Linked DNA regions of Homo sapiens. The protein of the gene in region 1 purifies or fractionates together with the protein of each later gene. This does not show direct contact. Each region holds a gene or a part of one and is shown on either strand. Other genes may lie near its edges.

What was found.
Region 2: the proteins of TTC12 (region 1) and ALDH3A2 purify together in Homo sapiens (affinity purification with mass spectrometry; one large-scale study listed by BioGRID and IntAct). This does not show direct contact.
Region 3: the proteins of TTC12 (region 1) and DNA2 purify together in Homo sapiens (affinity purification with mass spectrometry; one large-scale study listed by BioGRID and IntAct). This does not show direct contact.
Region 4: the proteins of TTC12 (region 1) and VSIG1 purify together in Homo sapiens (co-immunoprecipitation; one large-scale study listed by IntAct). This does not show direct contact.

Annotation. Positions count from the first base shown.
Region 1 is NC_000011.10:113,362,903-113,369,294, forward strand, and holds the end of TTC12 (tetratricopeptide repeat protein 12), read left to right. Parts: intron 1-925; coding exon 926-1,025; intron 1,026-1,932; coding exon 1,933-2,158; intron 2,159-3,322; coding exon 3,323-3,398; 3' UTR 3,399-3,485; downstream 3,486-6,392. UniProt on the Homo sapiens protein: Cytoplasmic protein that plays a role in the proper assembly of dynein arm complexes in motile cilia in both respiratory cells and sperm flagella.
Region 2 is NC_000017.11:19,653,584-19,659,975, forward strand, and holds part of ALDH3A2 (aldehyde dehydrogenase family 3 member A2), read left to right. Parts: intron 1-1,695; exon of another isoform or gene 1,696-1,804; intron 1,805-2,782; coding exon 2,783-2,991; intron 2,992-4,161; coding exon 4,162-4,279; intron 4,280-6,392.
Region 3 is NC_000010.11:68,465,474-68,468,973, reverse strand, and holds part of DNA2 (DNA replication ATP-dependent helicase/nuclease DNA2), read left to right. Parts: intron 1-667; coding exon 668-851; intron 852-3,161; coding exon 3,162-3,307; intron 3,308-3,500. UniProt on the Homo sapiens protein: Key enzyme involved in DNA replication and DNA repair in nucleus and mitochondrion.
Region 4 is NC_000023.11:108,066,215-108,072,564, forward strand, and holds part of VSIG1 (V-set and immunoglobulin domain-containing protein 1 isoform 2 precursor), read left to right. Parts: intron 1-721; coding exon 722-920; intron 921-6,350.

The DNA.
Region 1 (6,392 bases):
TATGAGACATGTAGCCTGCAGAATTACCATGTGACCAAAGGATGTTGGGATTTCCCTGTGAGATGAGTGTGGTGAATCTAAGCAAGCCAGTAGAGCAGTTATCTGGATTCACCTGCAAGGGCGAAGGGGATTAATACACTAGGCTGCCATCTCAGAATCCCACCTATGATGTGTGTGCCCATGAGGTCCATACACCCATGTTAGTGTGGTGACACATGGCTTTTATTCATAAAGCATCAGGCTGAGTGGCGCAGGGAAGCATGCTCTGCGGGCTGCTGCTAGGGCAGGGGTGACACTGAGGGGGCAGCACAGGGGGTCTGAGTTTAGATTGCCACTTGAACAATGACTGTCATTCATTATAACTTTTGCAAACCCACCAAAAGCTCCTGATGGCATGCATACCCATGCATCACACGTGCATACGTGCACACATGCCTTTTAAAGACCCCACATGGGTGATTGCAAGGGCTGTGTTTGACAGTTGTCATCTCTTAAAATGATGTAGGTTCCTGAAGTTCCTCATGCAGGACTGTCAGCCTGACAGCCTTAGCAAGTCAGTCCTCGTTCTCAAATGGGAAAATGACATGGGAGGGCCTTTTCCTCCCTTTTTGGTAGATCTGCCATTCATCAGCATCATTCTCTTCTCAGCCACTTGCTCATAAAGCCTTCCGGAGGCAATTACTCAGGTGTACATGACAGGCCTACATTCCTGTCAGGGGTGTGGGCTGGGTTAGAGAGGATGCGGGTGACACTCTGTTCCAGCAGGGACCATGCCTGCCCACCAGGAAGCACATGCCGTTCTCAGTAGAATTCTCTTTTCAGAGTTTAGGAAGCCACTAGCGCTATAATAACTGCTTGCTGTGGTTTGTGGTCAAGAGCAATCATAGCACTGATTTTATTTTTCTAATTTCATTCTGAAATCTAGACAGGAGGTGAGACTGCATCACGTTATGCTATAAAGATACTAGCTATCTGCACGAATAGTTATCATGAAGCTCGGGAAGAAGTAATAAGACTGGATAAAAGTAAGTGATGATTTCCTTAAGGGAGCCCTTGTCCCAGAGGTTCATCCACCCTTGAAGCTGCAAAGGGAACTGTGGTCGAGGAGGAACTTAGCAGCAATGCTGTTAACCTCTCCCAGACTTCAGCAATGTTTACAGAAGATGTTTCACATCCAGATCTGAAAGCATTTAATTAACCTTTTGGATGCACACAGGTAGAATGCCCAGGCTGGAGACCCAGCTGACAGATGGCTCAAAGATAACAGGGTCAAAGCTAGGAAACTCCCTCCTCTCACCAAGTTCAGTTCTCTGCCTTCACAGAAGGAGAGGGGGAAACACCGTCAACGTTTAGTGAACAAGGGAAATATCAGAGTCTGAGCCTAGGTTTAGTCCAGTAACTTAAACCGGCTGTAGTTATTCACAGCAGGCTTCCCAGGAGAGGCAGCCTGCTAATGTTCTTCTTACCAACTCCCTGGAATGCACAGAAGGTGAACTGAAGGAGGCTCCACCATGGAAGCGGCAAGCCTTTCTCCTGGATCCTGTTGCATACCCTGCAGGTGTAGGTTGCTGGCACATTGCCTCCACCTGGGGGCTGTCAGATAAGACCTCTCACCCTGGCGCAGTGAGAGGTTAAGAATAGGCTTTCAAGAAGACAGACCTGTCTGACACACAGCATTCATTCATCTAACAACTGTGTTGTGCTGGGCACTGTTCTAGGAAGCGGAGATACTTCAGAGGTTCAGCAAGGAGTTGAGGAGGTTCATATGCATTCAGTGAATGTTTGCTGATGAGTAAGTGAACAAGTTCTGCTGCAGAGTTACTGGGGAAGCTCGGTGTCCGCTGACATCTCCCTGCACCCCTCATGTCCTGTTGCCAGCCTCCTATTTTGGGATTAAAAGGAGCTGTTGCTTGTTCTCTTCTTTCCCTGCAGAGTTGAGCGTTATGATGAAGCTGCTCAGCTCGGAGGATGAGGTTCTGGTGGGCAACGCTGCCCTCTGCCTTGGTAACTGCATGGAGGTGCCCAACGTTGCGTCTTCCCTGCTAAAGACGGACCTTTTGCAGGTCTTGTTAAAGCTTGCAGGCAGTGACACACAGAAGACGGCCGTGCAGGTGAACGCAGGCATTGCTCTGGGGAAGCTGTGCACAGCTGAGCCCAGGTATGCTGTGGACACGGAGCCAGGCTGACCTATTGCAGAAAGAGCAGCTGAGCTGAGGTGCTGAGTTTTGGCTGGGACTGCATGCCACACAGAACAGTGTGGGAAGCCCTCATGCTTTCTGTGCAGACCTAGGTTAAGCCCAGTAGCTGCTTCTCTGAAGAAAGCCTTTCTAGAGGAAACTGGGGAGCTCTCGGTCTCCAACCAGAGAGGGAATCGGCTTGTCTGACAGGGACGTGCTGCTCCCACTTGCTGCCGTTGCCTTCTCTCCATTCCATTCTCCACTGTTTTGCATCCCTCTCCCTGTCTCTTTATCCTCCTTCTTCCCCTCCCTCCCACTCCACCTCCCCTTCTCTTCCCTCTTTTCTCTCTTCTCCACTTTTCCAGAAACAGACCCCCCACTTCATGTTCTTTGCCTCAGCCTAAACAAATGGAGGAACGGCCAGCAAGGGTCACATGTTCATGCAGGAGAAAACAGTGGAGAAGGAGAGACGCAGAACAGCATGCCGAGGTCCCCAGTGAGCGAGGGCAAGAGATGTGGGCTGTAACTGTGCCCATGGCTTCTCTGTTAGCTCAGACCTCCACTCTGCTCTGCTCCTCTTCTGATGTGCAGACGCATCTCATTGCACGTGCTTTTGGGAGGTGTCCACCTGTGGCTGAGCAAAGGAGCCCTGGCATAGAGCAAGGGTAACCCCGGGAGCTGAGTGAGAGAGGCTCCTTCCCTTACATCCACATGCCTTTAATTCCTCCTCTGTAGATTGAGGGGGTTGGCCTTGATAATATCTAAGGTCCTTTCAAGTTCTGTCTGGTTGTTCAAATGGAAGGAATAGTTAAAATCTTTCTTCTATAGAAAGAAAGCACATTAGCTAGGATGACTTCAAAGTGGCAACCTATGGGGGAGTTCTCGAGAGCAAGGTCCTGTCTGATCAGCCTGACACACCTGCCACCTGCAGCGAGTGTTTTCAGTGCTTTGTGGGCCTCCCTGAGGGTCTTACTTACCCCTGTGATCTTTAGGGTACCCCAATGCCACAGCCACTTCCTGTTTCCACCCAGAGTGATAGGACTGACGTTCTCAGCCAGCTTCCATCTGAGAGGGTGTTGGCTCTGGGCTCCAGAAGCCTGAACCGTGGCACTTATGCCCTGGGTTGTTTGTTTTGATTGTGACAGATTTGCTGCTCAACTGAGAAAGCTTCATGGCCTAGAAATTCTCAACTCTACGATGAAATACATCAGTGATTCTTGAGAGAGACAGGGTTTGTGTGCATTTGGGGAACACACAGATGCACACCGTGTGTTGTTCCTATGCTAATAAAGACCTTTGATGTATCCACTTCAGAATCAAGTACTCATTTTTAGAGTGTTTGCATTTCAGGTTTTCACGGGTAACAAGAGAGTGGGCATTAGGCTGGCTGCTGTGGTGGGCTCTGTGCACTGGCTTACTCGACTTCCATTGTACCCTCCTTTGAATGTTCTTTCCTGTTCTGTAGAAGCTAGAAACCATCTCACAAAAAGCCACATTGCCCAGACTCCCTTGTAGCAACGATTCTAGATGGGAACTAGTGGCCAATCTAATGCCACTTCCTACCCCTTTTGCTATTTTCTGCTGGCAATATGCTAGAAACATCAGATTTGTTGGTAGCAGCATTTCAGCTCCGTTTTTCCAGCTGTGGAGTGCTGAGAGAGAGTTGCATTGGCATCATTGGTGGCCTGCAGCTGACTCCTGGCCTGCAGCCACTGCATGTGCCGTTAAATTCAGTGGGGTGAGTGGTAGGTGGTGTCTCCCCTGTTAGGAGAACTCTGCGTGAATCATTCTGGGAATCATTCCTGGGGGTCCCTCTGGCACCCTCCTCCAGCCCATCTGGTGGTGCTATAGGCACCCTGTTCCATGGGTTAGATTGTTCTCTGCTAAAGGTGCCAAAGCACAGGCTTCTCTTTCTACAGTGAACCCTGACTGATGCAAATGTGTTGATTTCCCTAACCCACCTTGTACTCTCACCCCATCCCCAGAGGCAACGCTCCCTTCCAGTTGCCCCAGGGTCACTCTAAACCAGGGTCACCTGTGGACTGCAAGTCCCTAAGTGAGAAGTCCAATAAGTGGCATTATCTCTGGCTCCTTACAATCACAGAATCATTTTAGAGTAGGAGGCAGGGTCTTCATGGTACAGTGAATGTCAGGAGTCCCAGACCAAAGTTCCAAAGACTTTTGGTCGTACCCTGCTACCTGCCCTGCCAGCCATGTGACTTTGGGCAAGTTGCTTAACCTCTCTGAGCTTTGGCTACTGCTTCTGGAAACACTAATACCTGCCCAACCTACCTCCTCCATTGTTGTAAAGGTTAAATGAAGTTTTGGAGGTGAAGGCACTTTGGGAATTATAAAGTACTACGCAAATATAAGAGATTACCAGACTCTATCTTGAGATTGAGGGTGTCAACTATGACGTCATTTGGGTTAAGTTTGAAGGGTCTGGGAAAGGATGAAGCTCATGTCCTTTAAGGAATCAAGCTGGCCATTCTCTGAAGCATGTAGGAAAGGAAATCCTCCTCCTCCAGGGAGATGTTATTCAACACACCCAAAGAAAGTGTTCTTCACAGGTAAGGCAGCTGTTGGCTTAAATTAAGAACTTCGTTTCTGAAACGGAGATAAATAATTGGCATTTGGTGACGGGGGTGGGCGGTGGAAGAAAATCAATGGCCTGAGCCCCTCATTCAGATTGATGTACTGCGCATGGCTGGAGGGAGCTCACTGGGGCACTCTGTGGTGGCGCCCTGGGTGGCAAGCAAGTGACAGGCCACTAGCCAGGACCTGCCCATCAGTCCTATCATGCAAACAAACACCCTTCAAGAGGCTACTGAATTGCAAAGGGAGAACGGCTCGATGCTAATCAGAGCACAAAGAAGAAAATTAGAGGGTGCAAAAGTTGCTGTTTTCACAGAATTCCGTGGAGCTTTGAAAACGGAAAGGCTGTTTGTGTTCATAACCACCAGCCCTGTCTCCTTTGAAGTTCAGGCCCCGCCTTCCCCTGCTATGGCTGCCCTCCTTCTTGGCTCTTGAAAATGGCTATGATAGGTGTATTCTCTTCCCCAAAGAGTGGGGAATGTCAAATTACGTTATTATGTTTATTGTTCCAGAGTGCCTGCCGAGAGCAGTCATCTCCAATTTGGAAGAGAGTCTGCTGCACCTGAAGCTCTGTCTCCTCGCAGGTGGGAAGAGATGTTTCACATGCTAGTATTCTCCCTCTCCAGTGTGGATCCACCCCCGCCACCGCCCCAAACTTGTTACCCCTAACACATGCTACCATGCAGACCTTCCAGGCAGCATGGAAAATACCAGCGCCATCTTTCAGAAGGCCTCATCTCCACTTGCCAGGAGCCCCGACACCACCCTTGGAGACACGGCTTGTTCCAGGTAATCAGAGTCTTCTGGTTCAACAAGCAGAGGAGCTGGGATTTTCCATCCTAAAGAGGATGTGGCCGGGATGGAACTCCATCACCATCCTGAAGCCACAGCAGAGGTGGCAGGTAACAGACAGTCCAGAGCTGCTCACTGTCTTCATACATGACGTGAGGACGGTGGTTCCAGTGCGCCGCAAGGTGGGACTGAGGTTCAGAGTTGAGAGGAAACAATAGGAAGGGGCTGAGATGCTGCAACAGGTCACGGGCTGCTATTGTAAACACTTTTTTAAGGATAGGTTCAAATAAGAGCTTCTTGGCTTGGAGAACTGAGGGGAAGTATGACTAAGAAGTATTAGGTTGGTGCAAAACTAATTGCAGTTTTTGCCATTAAAAGTAATGACAAAAACTGCAATTTCTTTTGCACTAACCTAATATTCTGAGGACAAGAAGACATTTAATACCACATGACTTTTTTTAAGTAAGAGGTCTCATTTTCTAAATAACTTGAAAATAGAGGCTCTCCAAGGGTTCCGTTACAGGAGAGAATAATCAGAGGTGAAGAAAACCCATTTAGAGCTGACTCCCTTTCCCAGGGAATGAGCTTTTGGTCCTCATAGACTGGCATCCTGCAGACACGCAGAGAGAAAGAATAAAGCCTGCCTGTGCATTGTTTGTTTGTTTGTTTGTTTGTTTTGAAACAGAGCCTCACTTTATCGGCCAGGCTGGAGTGCAGTGGTGTGATCTCAGCTCACTGCAACCTCTGCCTCCCAGGTTCAAGTGATTCTCATGTCTCAGCTTCCCATAGCTGGGATTACAGGCATGCGTCCGTATCCCAAATTTTCAT
Region 2 (6,392 bases), on another chromosome or scaffold:
CCTCCTGTCTGGAGTTGTTCATTCCTCCCGGTGGGTTCGTGGTCTCGCTGGCCTCAGGAGTGAAGCTGCAGACCTTCGCAGTGAGTGTTACAGCTCATAACGGCAGTGCGGACCCAGAGTGAGCAGCAGCAGCAAGATTTATTGCAAAGACTGAAAGAACAAAGCTTCCACAGTGTCAAAGGGGACCCGAGCAGGTTGCCGCTGCTGGCTTGGGCAGCCTGCTTTTATTCCCTTATCTGGCCCCACCCGCATCCTGCTGATTGGTCCATTTTACAGAGAGCTGATTGGTCCGTTTTGACAGGGTGCTGATTGGTGCGTTTACAATCCCTGAGCTAGACACAGAATGCTGATTGGTGCATTTACAATCCTCTAGCTAGACATAAAAGTTCTCCAAGTCCCCACTAGATTAGCTAGACACAGAGCACTGATTGGTGCATTTACAAACCTTGAGCTAGACATAGAGTGCTGACTGGTGCTTTTACAATCCTCTAGCTAGACATAAAAGTTCTCCAAATCCCCACCAGATTAGCTAGATACAGAGTGCTGATTGGTGCATCCACAAACCCCAAGCTAGACACAGAGTGCTGATTGGTGCATATACAATCCTCCGGCTAGACATAAAAGTTCTCTAAGTCCCCACCCGACTCAGGAGCCCAGCTGGCTTTGCCTAGTGGATCCCACGCCGGGGCTGTGGGTGGAGCTGCCCATCAGTCCAGCGCTGCGCGCCTGCACCCCTCAGCCCTTGGGCGGTCGATGGGACTGGGCGCTGTGGAGCAGGGGGCGGCGCCCATCAGGGAGGCTCGGGCAGCATGGGAACCCACCAGGGGCGGGGTGGGGGCCTTGGGCATGGCGGGCTGCAGGTCCCGAGCCCTGCCCTGCGGGGAGGTGGCTGAGGCCCGGCGAGAATTCGAGTGTGGCGCTGGTGGGCTGGCATTGCTGGGGGACCCGGGGCACCCTCCTCAGCAGCTGGCCCAGGTGCTAAGCCCCTCATTGCCCAGGGCTGGCGGCGCCGGCCAGCTGCTCCGAGTGTGGGGCCCATTGAGCCTGCGCCCACCCAGAACTCGCTCTGGCTTGTGAGCGCCACGCGCAGCCCCGGTTCCTGCCTGCGCCTCTCCCTCCACACCTTCCCACAAGCAGAAGGAGCCGGCTCCAGCCTTGGCCAGCCCAGAGAGGGGCTCCCACAGTGCAGCTGTGGGCTGAAGGGCTCCTCAAGCGTGGCGAGAGTGGGTGCCAAGGCCAAGGAGGTGCTGAGAGCGAGCAAGGGTTGCCCGCACGCTCTCACCTCTCACCCAGCCTATAAGAGTACTTCTGCTTTCAAAAAAGACATGTCTGTGGCATGAAAACATGCCACACATACACAAAAAGTGCCCTCCTGAACTAGAGGGCAGATCCTCACACTGACTTAACATGCTGGCATTTAAGAATATCAAGAACTGAATAAAGAAAATGATCTGCCCAACTGCGGGTAGTTCATCTGTCTGAGTCAGAGGTTCTTATGCCTTCCTGGGGAGGAAGTTATGATGCCGCGAAGAAATTGGCACTGCTGAGTTCTACATGCAGTTGCTACAGGGAGGAGTCTTCATTTAGCTTTAAGCGAAATACAGCTTAAAAATATCTTACCTGTATTCTGTACATCAACTTGTGATGGATTGAGGCCAGTTCTGGTTCTTGGAATGATATTTTTCTCTTTGTTAGAGCCATTTTGTTCTAATAGCTGTGATGATCCAATCAAGAAAGATGAAATGGAAGACAGTGAGATGTCAAGGATTGAATAGGACGTAGAACCAGAAGATAGAGGTTGAAGGTACCGCTTTGCCCCTGACCAGGGGTAAATTCTTCAATAACTGACTCTGTCCGGATAAGGAGGATAATAATGCTCTACCAGCTTCAGTTACCGTGTTAGGGGATCAATAATATATGCTATGTAGATTAAGCCATAGAAAAGTTAAAGCTTGAAACATTTGTTGGGCAGCTGAACCATGAAGTGAATGAAATTAATTCGCCTTCAAGTGGAAACATGAGATCCACAAGCCAGCTTTTACTTCACACTTCCACCTTGGAGTCTTGAATACCTCTCTGTCTTCCTTGCTTGCCATCTGTTCTCTTACTTTTGATGCTGTTATTGTCCAAGATGTTCTCTCTTAGAATAGCTGGTAATGATAGCACAATGCATAGATGGGCTCAGTCCACAGAAGCTACGTGAATTCTCCCAGTAACAGATGAGGAAATTGAGGCTCAGAGATGTTCAGTAGCTTGCCTAAGGTTGCATAAGCTAGTGAGTGGCAGAGCCCAGATTCAAACCAGATACACTTCAAAAGCAAGCGCTCTCAGCTACTGTGCCGGATATACCATTCATTCAGAATAGCGTGGGCTAAGCCCACTCTGTGTTGTGAGACAGAGAACATTCAGACTAAGACATGCATGACCTGTCCTGTGGGAGCCACTCTTCACCAGAGGCACTTCTGCACACACCCGCGTCTCATGCATTTTCCCTGGTCAAATTCAACCATTTGTTCTCCTTAGTGTCTTTGTTGCTGAGCTCATGTAAAAAAACACTGGAGTCTCCAGATTAGTTCTATGTGGGTTCATGCTTCCCAGATGCCATCGGACTGTGTGTTCTCCTCTTGTCCTTGGTCAGTTCCCTCTCCCATCCCTCACAGGGACTGGTCTTGACACTCTCTGGGTTTTACTGAATGTTACATGTTTATGTTGAAGAGATTGCTGATGTTAGACGTTAGGATTTATTTGGCAGTGCAAGAGTTTGTGTTTCTCTTTCTTTGAGGATCTCTATATTGTTATTAATGGTGGTGTTGAGGAAACCACGGAGCTCCTGAAGCAGCGATTTGACCACATTTTCTATACGGGAAACACTGCGGTTGGCAAAATTGTCATGGAAGCTGCTGCCAAGCATCTGACCCCTGTGACTCTTGAACTGGGAGGGAAAAGTCCATGTTATATTGATAAAGATTGTGACCTGGACATTGTTTGCAGGTGAGTCTGGCTCTCTGATTTTCTGAGGTTTTCCCAGCACAATGGAGACTTTTCCTGACAATGTTACTCTTTGTACTTGAACCCCATACCTTATGGCTCCAAGATACATTATTAAGCTTTGGTGGTTGATGTCCTCAAGAGTAACAGGAGTCTTTCACTGTCTCTTGGCGCCACTGTCAAAAATGGTGAGCTGTAAGTCCTGACATCATGTGGTTGTCCTTAGGAATTTTAAAAAAGTTATATCTGTTCTCAAGATTACAGCTAGATCTAGCAAGAAATTTTAACGTTCTTCTGGCCAGTGATCTGTGAAGTACATAATCCAAAGTATTGTGTGTGCCTAATAAAATCTTTAAATGCCCATTTGAGAGGGTATTATGCTGATATCTTAACTGAGATCCTTTGTGGGCAAAACAAGTGTTCCTCATTTTTTAACTGTGAATAACATCTTGCATCTGAAAATTAGAAAATAAGAGGTTTCAGGTTCTCTCTGCTAAATCCGGTTTAGCTACTAAGAAGTGCCAAATCATAGAACTGACTCTGTGCTCTGGGTGGTGTGGCTTTCTCTGCCCTTCAGAGATTCCAGGTCAGGGTTCCAGGTTGGCTTCCTAAGTAGAAATCCATTTGTCAAAACCAGACACCCTCAGTTAGTGAATGTTTAGGGCATGGGTTTCTGCCCATGCATAGGAAAGGTCTTCCCAAGTGGGGCAGGGCTCCACAAAGAGGAGGATGGCCTTGGAGGCTGGCTGACATCCTGCTTTATACCTGAACATCTTGCAGGCAGAGCCAAAAGCCACAACCAGGAGAGTCTGTACCGAACTCTGGTCATCCAGGACTTTCCTTTGGCTGGACTGGAAGAGGGGAAAGGACATTGGGAGGCTGTTTCTCCTCTTTTCCTGCAGCAGGCAATGGCTTCACTGTTTACCAAGTACTGTTTGCCGTGAGCTGGCCTGAGAACTTCCCTGCTATGTAAAATATTCCACCTCATTTGGAAAATACTTTCTAAGTTCCAAACAACTGATTTAGAAATGAGTTTTTAACTTTTTTATAAAAATTGCCAGATAAATATATGAATCTATTTTAGTTGCAAGACATTCAAACAACACAATGTAACAAATGAATATTTGACTGAATTACTGAATTATATAGCTGTTCTGGATGTTTTCCCCTCAGACGCATAACCTGGGGAAAATACATGAATTGTGGCCAAACCTGCATTGCACCCGACTATATTCTCTGTGAAGCATCCCTCCAAAATCAAATTGTATGGAAGATTAAGGAAACAGTGAAGGTTTGTATTAAAAACATCTGATTCCACTGATTTTAATAAGATAAGGAGTCAAATTAACTATTCGCAGGCAGCATCCCCATTTGTTTCTCCCTTCAGGAAAATTTCAAAATCATATGTGACTCAGTGAACTTATTGACTAATATGAAAATGCTATGTGTACCATAGAATATATGCTGGGAGCAAGGTTGCATTGGTGTTAAATCTACTTAAACTGTCTAGTTGATTTGTTGATGATTAGTTGTGGCATATACTTTTTTTAAAAAAGTTAAATAATCGTGTGTCCGTGGTTTTGAGGGAATGTTGCCAACCCTTTAGGTATAATCAGAGAGACTCTTTGGCATATTGGCCATTGCTGCTGAAGGTTATCAGTTTTTGTGTATGTAGAGGGCCTAGGGTGGCCAGTAGTTTGGAGGAGTGACTTAATTAAATAACTACTTACAGTATACCCTTTATATAATTAACAATCTTTCAGCGTGTTTAAAGTAAATATTTGCAGTGAGGGAACCAAGGAAGACTGCATGTAGAGTCCTAAGCCAAGACTTGAAGAAATATAGGATTTAAGTTGGTAGAAAGGAATGGGGGCTGGGCACGGTGGCTTATGCCTGTAATCCCAGCACTTTGGGGGGCCTAGGGGGGCAGATCACTTGAGGTCAGAAGTTCAAGACCAGCCTGGCCAATATGGTGAAACCCTGTCTCTACTAAAAATACAAAAAAATCAGCCGGGGATGGTGGTGCATGTCTGTAATTCCAGCTACTCAGGAGGCTAAGGCACGAGATTTGCTTGAACCCTGGCAAGAATCGCTTGAACCCGGGAGGCAAAGGTTGCAGTGAGCCAAGATCACGCCACTGCACTCCAGCCTGGGCGACAGAGCAAGACTCTGTCTTTAAAAAAAAAAAAAAAAAGAAGAATGGGATGACCAAATGACCAGTGTGACTGAGTTCAGCAGTGGGTGAGGATCATTAACCCCTCAGATGAAAGAAATTATTGGAGCAGTCACTGTTTACTCGACAGATGTTAATTGAGCACTAAAAGGAAGGATCAAAAACACCAAAGAGTAATGCATGTGATCTGAAAATGAAAATTGTTGGCCAGACATGGTGGCTCACGCCTGTAATCCCAGCACTTTGGGAGGCCAAGACAGGTTGATCACTTGAGGTGAGGAGTTAGAGACCAGTTTGGCCAACATGGCAAAACCCATCTCTACTAAAATTACAAAAATTAGCCGGGCATGGTGGCACGCACCTATAATTCTAGCTACTTGGGAGGCTGAGGCACAAGAATTGCTTGAACCCGGGAGGTGGAGCTTGCAGTGAGCCAAGATCATGCTACTGCACTCCAGCCTGGGTAACGGAATGAGATTTTATCTCAAAAGAAAAAAAGATATGAAAATTGTCGCCGTTGTGGTGGTTCACTCCTGTAATCCGAGCACTTTGGGAGGCTAAGGTGGGAAGATCGCTTGAGCCCAGGAGTTCAAAACCAGCCTGGTCAACATAATGAGACCCTGTGTCTACAAAAGAAAAAAAGGTTAGCTGGGTATGGTGGCACATGCCTGTAGTCCCAGCTACTCAGGAGGCTGAAGCCAGAAGGATCACTTGAGCCCAGGAGTTCAAGGCTGCAATGAGCCATTATTGCATCACTGTGCTCCAGCCTGAGTGACAGCATAAGACTCTGTCTCAAAAAAACAAAAAAAGAGAAAATTGGCTGGGCACAGTGGCTCACTCCTGTAATCCCAGCACTTTGGAAGGCCAAGGCAGACAGATCACTTGAGGCCAGGAATTCAAGACCAGCTGGGCAACGTAGCAAAATCTTGTCGCTACAAGAAATACAAAAATTCAGGTGTACCGGCGTGTACGTGTGGTCCCAGCTACTTGGCAGGCTGAGGTAGGAGGATCGCTTGATCCTCCTGGGAGGCGGAGGCTGCAGTGAGCCAAGAATGTGCCACTGGACTCCAGCCTGGGTGACAGAGTGAGACCCTGTCTCAAAAAAAAAAAAAAAAGAGAAAATTATGTACCAGGAAGTTCAGGACAATAGTTCACTATGTGTTCCAGGCAGAGTAACTTGGGGGATGAGGTGCTAGGGTCTTGACATGGAAATTGGACTATCATTTTTAGT
Region 3 (3,500 bases), on another chromosome or scaffold:
GGTTCAAGCGATTCTCCTGCCTCAGCCTCACAAGTAGCTGGGATTACAGGCGTCCGCCACCACGCCCGGCTAATTTTTGTATTTTTAGTAGAGACGGGGTTTCACCATGTTGCCCAGGCTGGTCTTGAACTCCTGACTTCAGGAATCCACCTGCCTCGGCCTCCCAAAGTGCTGGGATTATAGGCATGAGCCACCGCGCCTGGCCTAGTTTCAACTAGTTCAGTTTGATTTTATTCTTGCTACACTGGATTTGGCTTCATGCTTCAAGACTTATACAAGCTGTAGATTTCCTAAAAGTCTTAAGAAAGAGTAAATTATTAAAACAACCCAATTCATAATTGGAGCTATATATTACATTAGCAAAGGTTTTTTGATAGCTTTTGCAATAGACTTTACTGGCACTAAGTTGTTTTCCCTTTGGGATTTATAGAAGACCCTTGAGTATTCTCAGATGTGTTTGACACATAGAAAGGGGTAGAATAACTAGGGGTTGTTTTAGAAGACTGTATCCTGCTATTTGATTTTTTTTTTTAAAGACCCAGAAATTTAGAAATATTTTTTTCTTCTTCAGATAAAATACTCATTTATTTTTTTGAAGCCTCCCTAATACGTTTACATGTAGGAACCTAAGCTATGTATTTATACTTTAACTTTGCTTTATTTTCAGGTGTTCTGTTCCAGTAGAGCCAGGAGATATCATTCATTTGGAGGGAGACTGCACATCTGACACTTGGATAATAGATAAAGATTTTGGATATTTGATTCTGTATCCAGACATGCTGATTTCTGGCACCAGCATAGCCAGTAGTATTCGATGTATGAGAAGAGCTGTCCTGAGTGAAACTTTTAGGGTAAATAATAGTAACAGTTAATGTTTCTGCAGGGTCTGAGAGTTTTACAGAGCACTTTTACATTTATTATTTCACTTAATCCTCCCAGCAACCCTATAAAATAAATGGTATTAATTAGCTGCATTTTATAGATGAGGAAAATGGGCTCAGAGAGGTGAAGTGACTTGCCCCATAGCCACATAACTATGAGGTGGCAGTGCTAGGACTAAAGGCCAGGTGCCTGAGTCCTTCGAATCTTGTTCAGGGCTTAATAAAATAACTAATTATAATAAGAAAATTAATTTAAATGATAAACTTTTAAATTTAAACACACCTAGACATTTCCAAAGTTGGCTTCATGTGATTCCCACTAAACTAAAAATAAATGTGCAAACTGCTTTTAAAAAATGTATTTTGCTAGAAAAATTAGCCAGGTGTGGTGGCGTGCACCTGTAGTCCCAGCTACTCAGGAGGCTGAGGCAGGAGAATCGTTTAAACCCGGGAGATGGAGGTTGCAGTGAGCCGAGATCATGCTACTGCAGTCTAGCCTGGGCGGCAGAGCAAGACTCTGTGTCAAAACAAACAAACAAAAATGTATTTTGGACTATTTCAAACATACAAAGAGATGATTGTAATAAACTCCCATGTACTCAACACCCAGCTTTTTATTTATTTTTCTTGAAACATGCAGTTTTATTTTAAAATAAAAAGTCTCAAAAAAAAAACGTATTTTGGGGCTGGGCGCAGTGGCTTACGCCTGTAATCCCAGCACTTTGAGAGGCCGAGGTGAGCAGTTCATGAAGTCAGGAGTTCAAGACCAGCCTGACCAACATGATGAAAACCAGTCTCTACTAAATACACAAAAATTAGCCGGGCGTTGTGGTGCGCGCCTGTAATCCTAGCTACTCGAGAGGCTGAGGCAGAATTGCTTGAACCCTGGAGGCGGAGGTTGCAGTGAGCTGAGATCCCACCACTGCACTTCACGGTGGGAGATAGAGGGAGACTCCGTCTCAAAACAAACAAAAATGTATTTTGGGCTATTTCAAACATACAAAGAGATGATCGTACCCAACACCCAGCTTTTTATATATTTTTCTTGAAACGTACTTTTATTTTATTTTGAGTCTCACTGTGTCACCCAGGCTGGAGTGCAGTGTGTCACTGAAGCCTTGACCTCCCAGGCCACCTCAGCCTCCCTAGTAGCTGGGACTATAGGCATGAGCTACTGTGCTTGGCCTGAATATTAAGTTTTAAAAAACTTTTTGGACCGGGCGCAGTGGCTCACGCCTGTAATCCCAGCACTTTGGGAGGCCAAGGCTGGCGGATCACGAGGTCAGGAGATCAAGACCATCCTGGCTGACATGGTCAAACCCCATCTCTATTAAAAATACAAAAAAATTAGCCGGGTGTGGTGGCGGGCGCCTGTAGTCCCAGCTACTCGGGAGGCTGAGGCAGGAGAATGGCGTGAACCTGGGAGGCGGAGCTTGCAGTGAGCAAAAGTCGCGCGGCTGCACTCCAGCCTGGGTGACAGAGCGAAACTCTGTCTCAAAAAAAAAAAAAAAAGGTCTAGGCTAATACAAGAGTTAATCAAGAAATGTAGTGTTTCTTTTTGAGTGGAGAAAAATTCCTTGCCAAAAATCTCTGCTGTAGGTTAAAAAAATTTTTTTTCTTCCCAAACATTACTGCTAAGTAGGTTTACATTTTATGTTTGAATGGTATCTTTTACTTACATGAGTTTATCAGCTATGCCTTTATTGACTTTTCTATTGGGTGGATTATCAAGTGAAATAAGAGAACAATACTTTAAATATTAATTATTTGAGAATATTTTGAATTTTAAAATATTGGTTATTTTAATTTTTTTCAAAATGGAGAACATTGATTTTAAAAGTAATTCATATCAGCCTGGCCAACATGGTGAAACCCTGCCTCTACTAAAAATACAAAAAATAAAAGTTAGCCGGGCATGATAGCACACACCTGTAATTCCAGCTACTTGGGAGGTTGAGGCATGAGAATCATTTGAACCTGGGAGATGAAGGTTGCAGTGAGCTGAGATTGTGCCACTGTGCTCCAGCCTGGGTGACAGAGCAAGACTCTGTCTCAAAAAAGAAAAAAAAAAGGATAACTCATACAGTAATTCAGACAATTCTGGATAGAAGAAAGTGAAAGTCACTTATAATTCCACGCACCAGAAAAAAATTTTTTTAATATTTTGGCATTTGTCTTACCAGTGCATTTTGGCTATGGTGGTTTAATAGATTAGGTAATAAATATACAATTGTGTCTGTTAATATGTTGTGAAATAAACTGTGTGATTTGCTTTTGTAGAGCTCTGATCCAGCCACACGCCAAATGCTAATTGGTACGGTTCTCCATGAGGTGTTTCAAAAAGCCATAAATAATAGCTTTGCCCCAGAAAAGCTACAAGAACTTGCTTTTCAAACAATTCAAGAAATAAGACATTTGAAGGAAATGTAAGTAGTTATAAGAAGAACTGCAGGTATAATTTTATTATATAACTTCTGTCCTAGAAACTATAAAGTATTTGTGTAGACTATCCAATATAAATTAGTGTAATCTAAAATGCAGATTTCATAGTTCTAGTACATTGTTGGAACTCTGTGAAGAGTTTCTGAAATTGCTCAACAGGAACTTTTTGGGTAAAAA
Region 4 (6,350 bases), on another chromosome or scaffold:
CCTTATTTGTTTAAATGACAGAAGAATTCCAGTTCTGCCTTCTGCCACATGGGGAGAAAGATGGTAGCTATCATTGGCTGAGCACTTCCGAGGTCCTTTACTAGATTTCTTAGTTTCATCTTCACAACACCACTATAAAGGGATGGGACCAGATGATTTCTAAGATGCTTTTCCGCTTTGCTTCTAATAAACAAAACAAACCCAAGTTTGTCTATCCAAAAGAGTAGGTGTGTCTAAAAGGAGCATGAACATTTGAACATTTAAGGAAACCAGATAGTCTCACTGGGTAAGGTAAATTCAAATTTTAAGAAGTTTATAAAATGGTAAAAAAAAAAAAATGATGGTTTTGGTTTCCCATCAGACATTTGTGTTCTACATAATGAGTTTCTCTCAGGTGGATTCATTAAGTGAGCATCTTGATCTCCTAGCCCAAGCTTAGGTGTTGAATCCTGTCAGCTCCAGCTGCCTCCTCCTCTGTAAGATAGGCATACTAATCCCTGCCCTGATGACATCACAGAGCTGCTCTGAGGGCCAAATGCGCAGCTGTGAGCAAACTAAAGTGCCCCACTGAGTTGAGAAACCTTGGCCACAGGGACCTGTTCCTGGTGGGGGGAAGATGCTGCTTCTTTATCAAAGGTAATGTGTTTAGAAGAAGCTTTCAGGTAGCTTATCCTAGTCCTGGACTCTCTCCAGTTCTCACTTCTGTTATTTTTCTGTCTAGATTTACTTTTCTCAAGGTGGACAAGCTGTAGCCATCGGGCAATTTAAAGATCGAATTACAGGGTCCAACGATCCAGGTAATGCATCTATCACTATCTCGCATATGCAGCCAGCAGACAGTGGAATTTACATCTGCGATGTTAACAACCCCCCAGACTTTCTCGGCCAAAACCAAGGCATCCTCAACGTCAGTGTGTTAGGTATGAGCACTTTTTTCTGCTTTTTCTTTTCTTGGAAAAAGTTAGGACACTGAATGAGCCAGGACAGTGAGTTATGATGCCAATTAAGTCTCTGTAGGTAAATATACTCCCTAATATTTTCATTATCAGGGAAATAGAGACAAGCCACCAGCCCAACCAAAACAGTAACACTGAGAAATCACTCATAAAACATGCAGAACAATTGTGCAAACGGGCTGCCAAAATGACAGCAGTAGATGACCCAACCTCCAGTGATCCCTATCTCTGAGGGATGGAATGAGAACAGATGAGACAATCCACTGTCCCACAAAATGATCACTAGCAACTCTTTTAGAGGAAACCTCCATTTACAGCCAGATCTACCTGGGGGAGACTACTGTCAACTTATTATTCCTTTTAAGCTCGACACAATTCCCACCATTAAATTATTCTTTTAAATAAAGACAGGAGAGTCCCTTTTTTAAAATGCTAATGTTATTTGGAAAAAGGACTGAAATTAATCTAGTGTTGAGAATCAACATATTTACATACAAATATTCATTATATGATATTGGGCAAGCCGTATCTGCTCTTAAAATGAATTTGGAATCTCATTTGTTCAGTATTTATTGAGTTACAGTGATGGAGGTGTTGTTTTTGCCCTTGGGAAGCTCCCAATTTTGGCCATTTCTAGAAGTCCTTACAATCTCTGTCTGAGAGGACAATGTGGGCTAAACTTCCATCTGCAGGCTGGTATTGGGAAGTATCGAAGCAAGGGATGAAAGGGCTGCCAATCCTCAACTCTTACAGACAGACCAGTTGAGATGAGCATTTTCCCACTTCTAGGTAGCCCCAAATGAAGCTGATCTAGTCATTGCTGCTCTCAAGCTGTGTGCACACATCACAAGAAAGGAGGAACTACATCAAATCAGTGACTTAATAGTTGAGTAGCTTGGAAAAGCAGCAATTGGTAACAAGGTGCATACCCAAGAGAACTGTTTACAGTTGTCCTGGCTTGCCACTCAGGTAATGCCACAAAGGAACCAGCTGACATTTACTGTGAGGTTTGCCACTGCATCTACCCACCTGGGAAAGAGGGAAAGGTACCTAAGAGCTATTTTTTAAGAGTGGGTTAGCTTAATCAATCATATTTTTATCTTACTGAGTTCTGTGCCAGGAATTGGGGTACAGGAACAGACAAGAGAAGTATTACTCAAGCAAATTCCTGGGAGAGTTTCTGTTTCAGTTTGGAAGACTAGTGTATTAGTCTATTCTTGCATTGCTGTAAAGAAATACCTGAGACTGGGTAATTTATAAGTAAAAGAGGTTTAATTGTCTCACGGTTCTGCAGGCTGTACAGGAAGCATAGCAGCTTCTTGGGAAGCCTCAGGAAACTACAATCATGGCAGAAAGCAAAGGGGAGGCAAGATGTCTCACATGGCTGGAACAGGAGGAAGGGGAGGGGAAGATGCCACACACTTTTAAACAACCAGGTCTTATGAGCACTCATTCACTATCACAAGATCAGCACCGAGGGGGAAATCCGCCCCCATGATCCAGTCACCTCTCACCAGGCCCTATCGCCAAAATTAGTGATTACAATTTGACATGAGGTTTGGGTGGGGACACAGATCCAAACCATATCAACTAGTTAGTTATATACATGGGAACTAAGTGATGTGCTATAAATGCCAAAGCATCAAACTGGCACTCAGAAGACCTGAGTTTTAGATCTTACTCTGTACTCAGTGACCTTATACAAGTCAGTCCACCTTTCTCTGACCATTGTGAGATGGGGTTATAATTTCTGCCCTGTCTTCTTTACAGGTTTGTTATGAACAGTTTTGTTATTTTACCTATAAAATGAAATACTGGAGATCAAAGGGGTTTTTAAATGTTCAAAAACTGGAGGGATTAGCTAATGATTTTCTGTTGCTTCCTGGTTCTGGGATGTTCTGACCAGAAACAATCTAAAGAAGCCAAGTCTCTTCATCTCAGAGCTTGGAAATAGCCCTGAGATAAAGTTAGACAAGAAGGTTAATATTCTTAAATTTAAAGCTCAGAGGATCCCAAATCAATTTCCATAAGAAGTTGAGGGTCACTTCATCTCAGAGGTGTTTTTTCCCATGAGTCTTTGTGTCAGATAGCTCTGTGTCATGACTTTTCCTTAAGCAGCCAGGATCCAGACAAGGTAAGAGGCAGAAGGGTCTGTGGATTTCCTTGTTTGTTTAGGAACTCTAAAAAATATTGTTTTTGTTAATTGGGCAAAGAACAAAGGCCTCCTCCAAATGTAGGCTTTTTGGAAAATTTGAGACTGCTAATTTTCTCTAAAAATTGCAGCGACTATTTGCAATTCTCAAATCTCATTGTATATGAGTGACAATTTTGCTTGCCCTGACTGAAAGGTGAGGCAAGATGGGGACAGGTGGGTAAGAGAGACAGGTTAATTGTGGGGAGAGGTGTTGATATTTCCTTAAAGATGACTCTCATAGCAATGTATCTTTCAGATGTTTTGTTACCCAGCAGTGAGCATCAATCCCATGCATTTACTCGTTCATGCATGAATTCATTTAACAAACCCTGAGCACACGTGCCAGTTACTGTGCTAAGCAATGGACATGGGGAAATGTAAAAGATAGGGTCTTAGCCCTCTAAAATTCAGTCTAGTGAAGGAGACAGACGCGTAACATAAAAGCTTTCAGTGGAGGTATGAGAGGAGAGCTATGAGGGCACAGGGGAAAGGGCAAAAAGCTGTATCAGGAATTGGAGAAGGCTTATTGAGGAAAGTGACTTTTGTGCTGAATGTTGAAGGATGTGCAAGAGTGTGTGATGAAGAAGAGGGGCTGAGATGGCAAGGCACAGTTTAGGTGAAGGAAACAGCAATGGGCAAAGAACCAGGTGGTTTGGATGGCCATTCATTTGAGAGCTTTCCATTAGGTATGACAACCTTGGAAAATTAATCTCTGAAAAATACCCAGATCAAGTTTGAATAATTATTTTGTGTGCATTTGGAATGAGCATCATCTACCTTCCGCAATTTGGCACATAAAAAGAAAATGATTGATTTAGGGAAGGTTTAAGAACCTACTGAAGCACTTTGTTTTTTCTTTTTTCTTTTTTTTTCTGAGCTGAGCCTTTTCCTCCCACCCCAATTCTGTTGAAAGCAATAAAGCTAAATGGTAGATCAATGGCTTTGCCAGTAAAATACCCAAGTTCCACTGGGGACTTTAACTGGATGAAATTTCAGTTCAATCCTGGGTCAGTAGTTTTAGAAAATATATAGGTTTGGGACTTGGTTCAAAGTGATTCACTAAATGTTTTGTTAATAAAAAATAAAAGGAGAAAAATATTCTAAGCAAAAAAAATGCCTATCTGGGTTTGATTCTGGGCTCAAGAAATGAGTGCAAGTCATTCCAGGTTTTTGCCATAATTTAGTTCAAGTCCTGGTGTCCAACTTTGTGATGAAACACCCCCATTTAATTTTCTGTTCAAATTGTTCTATTCTGCTGTAAAGGCTATACAATAGCCATCTTTTTAAAAAGGCAGTATCTAAATCTAGTGATAGCTGCAATGGACTTCTGGTTAAATAGCTTAGTTTAGGATAGGCACATCCAACAAGTTGTTCCTACCTGAGAAAATCTTTGATAAGAAAGAATAAAGAACTAAGTAGAAGGATATTCCTTTCAATTAAAAAGACACATGCTTAAAAGATAGGGCTAGTAAACTGTTTAAGAATTATAGCTATATGCATCTGTCTTCTCGCACCTGTGTACAGATAGTGAGAGTCTGGGAAGGCTGAACTGAGCGGAAGTCAATGGGAGAGTAACTTTAGTAGCAGGAATTAGTGCTGCTGTGGCCAACAGAAATTCCAGGTTCTAGGCCCTATATTTATTATTGTATTTAATACTTGGATCAGCCAGAGGTTAGATAATCTCTTAGTCACGTTTTACAGATGAGTCAGCTGAGGTTTGGCTAAGTTAGGTAACTTGCCTATACAGATCCAGGGTAGAGTTACAAAGCCCGTATTCTGTGTGGATCCAGAGCTGTGCCCTTAACCACTGCGTCTCAGGTAAGAGCTGTAGGACTGAGTAATATGACACATTTCATGTCTAACTCACCTAAATTAGAGAACCTAAGCTTTAAAGGGTTCTAGAGCAAAATGAAGATAAGCAAGGTGAGTTGGAAAGTATAGAAATTTACATCATTGTCTGTATATAAGATAGATATATAAGGTGTATAAGATAGATGTATAGATATAAAATAAATATCTAAGATAAGAGATATAAGATAGATATGTAGATATGATAGATATATAAATGTATAAGATATGTAAGATAGAATAAACCGTGCAAGTAAGTAAGATGAATGAGGAGATTCAGATTCCCAGCTTCCCACAGGACTTCTCCCCTGACATGTTTTCATAAGCAGCTAAAACTCTATGTCCCGGACTGACCTCATTAGTACCCCTTCCTCCTTGTCACCCCTTCACCTAAAACCTGTTCTTCCTGCTGTGGTCTTGGAGGCCTCTTCCCCTCTCTAAAGTCATCTCTCATCCCTCTCCCACCCCACTTTAGAACTGTGTGAAAGTTACTTTTGAATTCCTGGTGCCTAGTCCCATGCCAGGCCCACAGAAGGCATGGGTGCTTGCTGAGTGAAGGATGAATAAATATTTCAGTGCTGAGTAGCGTGCACCCCCCAAATGGACTTCCCCTACTGATGATGCACACAGGCAAATTTAAACCTTTCAACTATTTGTGTCACCCACAGATGAACAAATGCAAAAAAAAAAAAAAAAAAGAAAATAATCATGAGAGAAAAGAGAAATACAGCATTAAATATTTTAAAAAGAATAATAGGTTATCTCAGAGTATTTAAGGATTCTATTTTCCTTTAAAACTGTGCTTTTAAAGCATAAACTATATTCCTGGTCATTTAGTATTTGCTTATATTTGGCTGTTTTAATAAAGGCATATTTTAAGACACAATGCGGAAATTCATGGTTATAAATCTGAGGAGGAGGCAGACAGAGGAGTCACTATTTGAATCTTAATGGCCTCTTGACTAGAAGGGCCCTGCACCTGAAGTGCTCTACTCCCACCTGGTGGTGCAAGCAGAAAACTGCCAACATACATTTTAATAATTTTTTTTGTGTGTGTGGAGACCCAGTCTCACTTTGTTGCTCAGGATGGAGTGCAGTGGCGTGATCTTGGCTTACTGCAACCTCTGCCTCCCAGGTTCAAGTGATTCTACTGCCTCACCCTCCCAAGTAGCTGGGATTACAGGCGCCCACCACCACGCCCAGCTAATTTTTGTATTTTTAGTAGAGATGGTGTTTCATCACATTGGCCAGGCTGGTCTCGAACTCCTGACCTCAGGTGATCCACCTACCTCGGCCTTCCAAATTGCTGGGATTACAGGCATGAGCCACTGCGCCTGGCCAAGAATTTTTTT